Linked DNA regions of Homo sapiens: region 2 is linked to region 1. Evidence: fine-mapped expression QTL. Tissue or cell type: monocytes. Region 1 holds a variant in brackets; the other region holds the start of a gene. All regions are shown on one strand. Distances are between the middles of the regions. Region 1 overlaps SQOR (sulfide quinone oxidoreductase). Region 2 holds the start of SQOR (sulfide quinone oxidoreductase).

Region 1 (3,024 bases):
TTGACTGGCGTGTATACCCATGGTTTATCGTGTTGCGCCAGGAAAATTTAGGACATGGACACACACAAGGAGTTTCGGAGTGGAGGTTTAATAGACAGGAGAAAAGAGAAAGAAAAACAACTCTCTCTATTGAGAGAGAGGGGTCTTCTGAGTGGAAAGACGTGGCCGGTGGTGGATATGTCAGATTTTATAGTCAGGTTGGTGGAGGCGGTGTCTGATTTACATAGGGCTCACAGATTGGTTTGATCAGGTATGATGTTTACATAGTGCATCAGGAAGGCTGGCCTCCCCACCCTCATCTTATTATGCAAATGAACTTTCCCCTTAGTTGGGGCCATCTTGTCTGCTCCTTACTGTACACATGGCTGACAAAGCAAAGGGAAAATGGAGCCGCCATCTTGAACATGATTGCCAGCATCTATGTCTGCAGCTCGATTTTACAGGCTGCTTTTGTTAGACAGGAAAATGATTTGGGGCTGCTTTTCATTAAAAGGAAAACCTTACCGAGGACTTCCATACCCTCACTATCTGCCTAAGTAAATTTTTCTTAACTCTTGTATCACTTGGAGGCCAAATAACCTCAGACAGGGTGGCTGGAAACCAGAAACTTAGCCAGGCCTCCTCCTAGATTGCTCCTCCTGCCCCTGCCCCATGGGGCGCTTCCTATGGGGCTTTTCCCATGGAGATAGATATAGTGTCAGGACCATGAAAAACATGATTTTTCTTTTCTGGAAAGTGAGAAGTTTTGCTGTGATTCTATCATTCTGTGGACATTTAGAAAGAAAAGCAGGATGTGATGACTGGGTACACACCATAAAATATCTTCTTCCTTCCGTATGAAACATCAATATCTTACTTGGTGATTTCTTCTTCTCTTCAATCTAAAAAAAATCTATTTGAGTAATTTTTAAAATTTAAAATGTACAGTGTATTAAAGAAAATTTGTGAAAAGTACATACAAAGAAGAGGGAAAATAATTATAATCATTAAAACCATTGCTAATATTTAGGTATCAGTATCATGAAAAATGGTTTCCCTTTTCTGGGAAGTTGTAGAAAGTATATCTTTTTTTTTTTTTTCTTTTTGAGACAGAGTCTCACTCTGTTGCCCAGGCTGGAGTGCAGTGGCGCAATCTTGGCTTACTGCAACCTTCGCCTCACGGGTTCAAGTGATTCCCCTGCCTCAGCCTCCCCAGTAGCTGGGACTACAGGTGTACACCACCATGCCCAGCTAATTTTTTTTTGTATTTTAGTAGAGACGGGATTTCACCATGTTGGCCAGGATGGTCTCGATCTCCTGACCTTGTGATCCGCCCGCCTTGGCCTCCCAAAGTGCTAGGATTACAGGCGTGAGCCACCGTGCCTGGCCTATTTTTTTTTTTT[TC/T]CCCGTTTAACATTATCACACAAGCATTGTTTTGTTGCTGTTGAGACATATTGTTCTAAAGATCATAGAGATAGTATGGTGTAGTGGTTTAAAGTAGAGGCTCTCACACCAAAATACCTGGGTACAAATCACAGTCCACCCATGGGCTATATAACTTTGAGAGTCACTTAACTGCTATCTGCCTTAGTTTTACCATCTGTTAAATGGGAATGATGGTGGTAGCCAACTCACAAGTTAAATGCTTATGTAAAGGACTTTGTAAATGTTAATTATCATCTAAAGGAAGATTTTATTAATATTAATTTTATTTATTTATTTTGAGACAGGGTCTCCCTCTCTTCCCAGGCTGGAGTACAGTGGTGAAATCACAGATCACTGTGGCCTTCACCTCCCGGGCTTGAGTGATCCTTCCACTTCAGCCTTGGTAGTAGCTGGGTGCACCACCATGCCTGGCTAATTTTTTTTTTTTTTAAATAGAGTTGGGGTTTCCCCATGTTTTCCATGCTAGTCTCAAACTCCTGGGCTCAGGTGATCCCTCTCTCTCAGCCTCCTAAAGTGCTGGGATTACAGGTGTGAGCCACCATGCCCAGCCAATATTAATGTATGTGTATAGTAGAGACTTTTATAAAATACATAAAAGCAGAAGAAATCAAAATCACTCATTATTCTAAAACCCAGAGAAAACCACTTGCCAGTGTTAAAATTTTGGCTTTGTTTTTTCTAATATATTTCCTCTTACATAGTTGAGAGAATATTGCATTTCTAATTTGTATCCTGATCATGATGTAAACATTTTTTATTTATTTTATTTTATTGTTTTTTTCAGACAGAGTCTCACTCTGTCACCCAGGTTGGAGTGCAGTGGCATGATCTCAGCTTACTGCAACCTCTGCCTCCTGGGTTCAAGCAATTCTCATGGCTCAGCCTCCCTAGTAGCTGGGATTACAGGCACACACCACCACGCCTGGCTAAAAATTTTTGTATTTTTAGTAGAGACAGGGTTTCACCATGTTGGCCAGGGTGGTCTTGAACTGCTGACCTCAGGTGATCCACCTGTCTTGGCCTCCCAAAGTGCTGGGATTACCGGTGTGAACCACCACGCCTGGTCTATATATTGTTTATGAACATAATTTTAAAAGACTTCAGAAATCATCTTGTGTTCCATATTTTAGTTAACCTTTCCCCAGTGTTTTGATATTTGCATTGCTCTCTGCCCCCATATTAAAGTGGTGACCTGAGCCTTCCCTGGCCCGTGTGGAGCCTGCATTTTTTTTTTTCTGTCCCCAGGACATAATTAGCCCTAATCCACAAACCAATTAGTAGAGGGGTGACCAGATTATGAATACATTTGTGAAAAACATCTTTGTAGTGGTTTTTCTTCTTCAGTATTAGAGGTTATTTCCTTAGATTAGATTCCTAGAAATGGAAATGCAGGGTCAAAGGGTAAGTTTCCAGAAGGGTTTTATTGACTCTAGACTCCTGGAAACACTGTATGAGCCTGTCCTACTTACCGTGGGCCTCCAAATCCCCTTCCTACAGCTCTAGGTTGCTTCTCAGATCTGAAATATTGAAGAAGTTGTCGGGGCACCAAAACTCTGGAATTAAGTTAATCTTAACAGCCCCTCAGCTCCTCTTTCCCAT
Region 2 (2,713 bases), 21 kb before region 1:
GACCAGCTTGGCCAACATGGTGAAACCTCATCTCTACTGAAACATACAAAAATTAGCCGGGCATGGTGGCACACACCTGTAGTCCCAGCTACTCAGGAGGCTGAGACACCAGAATTGGTTGAACCCATGAGGCAGATGTTGCAGTGAGCCGAGATTGCTCTACTCACTGCGCTCCAGCCTGGGCAACACAGTGAGACTCTGTTTCAAAAAACAACAACAACAACTATATATATATATATATATATATATATTCAAAATTCATAAAACCAAATAAGTGTAAAAGAAACTCAAACTTTCAAGGGTTTATTTTTGTTTGTTTTTTTGAAAGCTTCTAGCACTTGCACTTCTCAGGTTATGAGACTTTTGGGACACCCTGTATTTATTGTAAAAAGGGTTACTGAATCTGATATGGTGGAGAACCACTCACTGAGACTTTACATCAACCTGGAAAGAGCCGCCAACTGAAAATGTCCAGTCATGAATATGGGATGGGACACTGTGGAGGCCAGTGGCTGGAAGCCAGCTTACCCCTGCCTGCGCGTTTTGAAGGAAGGGCTCCAGCGCACACCAAAGCTGAACCTCGGTCACCTTCTCTGTGAAATGAGCGCGGGAATACCTGTGTTTCTGGGCAGCTGTGTGAACCCGGTGAGAAGCCCAGGGCACATAGGAGGACCCAGTGGGAACAGCCAGAGCCTCTCTGCACAGCGCCCCGCCTCCGCTTTTGCCTGCCCTGATTACAAAACGCTGTTGGCACCCAGGGGCGGAAGCGTCAGGTGGCCTCGGTGTCCTCCGCCTGTGCGCCCCAGCCTGCGGGGCCGCCCTTCAGGGCGCGCAAGGGGCGAGTCTGTCCAGCCGGCAGCACCCCAGGCCGGATGGACGCTTGTTCCTGGTTCTGTGCCCCGTGAGCGCTCAACGCCCTGGTGTGTTCACTGACCATGGTGCCTGGGCTGCGGCGCCGGGCGGGGCACGGCGGGACTTTTCGGGACCTTTCCTGGGGGGAGCCTCGCTTTCCCCGCCTCCAGCCTCCGCCCGGATGGCAGGCGGGCGGGGCCCCAGTCCAGGCCTTGAGACCCAGAAGGGAGCGAAGGTTTTTGCTGCGCCAACGCAGTGACCGAAGGCTCCGCTCACGCCCGGGTAAGAGGCATCCGCGGCCGATCTTTGGCCCTGGGCCAGCGGAGGGAGACTGGGCGGGGACAGCGACCACCACTGAGGCTGTTTGTTAGCTTAACTCGGTTTCCGCAGCTGGGACTCCGCAGACCCGGTGCGCCGCGCCCCAAACTTTGCTTCCTCAACTCCGGACACCTGCAGCTCTTGCTGCCCTTGTCTGGAACCCGGGTCTTGGGACTCTTGCTTCCTTCTCAGAGTGTCAGAGCCTCAGGGCCGCGGAGAGGCCAACCCGCGAGGGGTGCTTAAAAACCGAAGTATCCGTGGTCTTGGTGTGTGGACGTTTCTGGCGCCTTCCACCTGTTGACTGTCACTCGGCACCGTCCTGGAGCGGGAGTGGGTGCTCGGCGTCCGGGGGCCAGGGATTGACACAGTCATCCACCGACACTGCGCGTGGGACAGAGGGGGCGCTCGAGGGGTCGGCTGCAGCTGAAACCTGAAGGGGAGAGGATTTAGGGCACCTGCTGAACAGGAATTGGTGGAAAGGGAGAAGGGGTCTTCTGGTGGAATCTGGGCTCATTTCCTTTCCTCTTCATCTGTCTCTTTTATTTATCAAAATTCCAACCTGGCTTTTTGCTCAAAGACGCTGAACAGAGCCCCTGGCTTTGCCTGCGCTGCCCATTGCTATAATGCAGGGCTCTGTTCCATTTTTGTGCTGTGCACCCCTTTGGCATTTCTGGGAAGGCTAAAGACTCTCAGAACAATACTTTTTTTTGAGACAGAGTCTTGCTCTGTCGCCCAAGCTGGAGTGCAGTGGCGCGATCTCGGCTCACTGCCACCTCCACCTCCCGGGTTCAAGCGATTCTCCTGCCTCAGCCTGCCGAGTAACTGGGATTACAGGCGCAGCACACCTGGCTAATTTTAGTATTTGTAGTAGAGGCGGGTTTCACCATGTTGCCCAGCTGGTCTCGAACTCCTGGCCTCAAATGATCCGCACACTTCGGCCTTCCAAAGTGCTGGGATTACACGAGTGAGCCACCGCGCTGGACCAGAACAATGCTTTTTTAAAGGTATAAAACAAAAGGAAGAGTATTATAAAGGAAACCAATTGCAAAACACATGTCAAAACATTAAAAGAATTTATGATATGGTAATATATATGTCTTTAAAAAACGAATGCGTTATTTAATAACAAGGTTATTAAATAACAAGATCTAGCAGTGGATTAAATAGTTACCATAATTTTGAAGTAGTAAAGAACATAAACAATTATTTCAAGATATAGGTAATACTTGTAATATAAGAAAATATCTGTAATTTCTTTCTTCTTTTTTTTTTTTTTTTGAGACGGAGTCTCACTCTGTCACCAGGCTGGAGTGCAGTGGCGCGATCTCGGTTCAATGCAACCTCCGCCTGCTGGGTTCAAGTGATTCTCCTGCCTCAGCCTCCCGAGTAGATGGGACTACAGGTGTGTGCCACCACACCCAGCTAATTTTTGTATTTTTAGTAGAGACAGGATTTCACCATATTGTCCAGGATGGTCTCGATCTCTTGACCTTGTGATACGCCCACCTTGGACTCCCAAAGTTCTGGGATTACAGGCATGAGC

The links. PIP is the estimated chance that this variant, and not a neighbour inherited with it, causes the effect.
Region 2: it holds the start of SQOR, and the variant in region 1 is fine-mapped to the expression of SQOR in monocytes (Quach 2016, PIP 0.95). The same link has a PIP of 0.9 or more in monocytes after Pam3CSK4.

What each region holds. Positions count from the first base shown.
Region 1 is chr15:45,654,617-45,657,640 of GRCh38, forward strand. The region is part of intron 1 of SQOR (sulfide quinone oxidoreductase); the gene reads left to right. Among named protein-coding and RNA genes, the nearest start is that of SQOR, 21 kb to the left of the region's middle. The variant TC/T (reference allele first, on the strand shown) is at 1,383.
Region 2 is chr15:45,633,975-45,636,687 of GRCh38, forward strand. SQOR (sulfide quinone oxidoreductase) reads left to right here and starts at 1,055. Exons shown (of 10, transcript NM_021199.4): 1 at 1,055-1,134. RefSeq lists enhancers at 199-1,194, 1,657-1,746, 1,777-1,826 and a silencer at 1,007-1,176.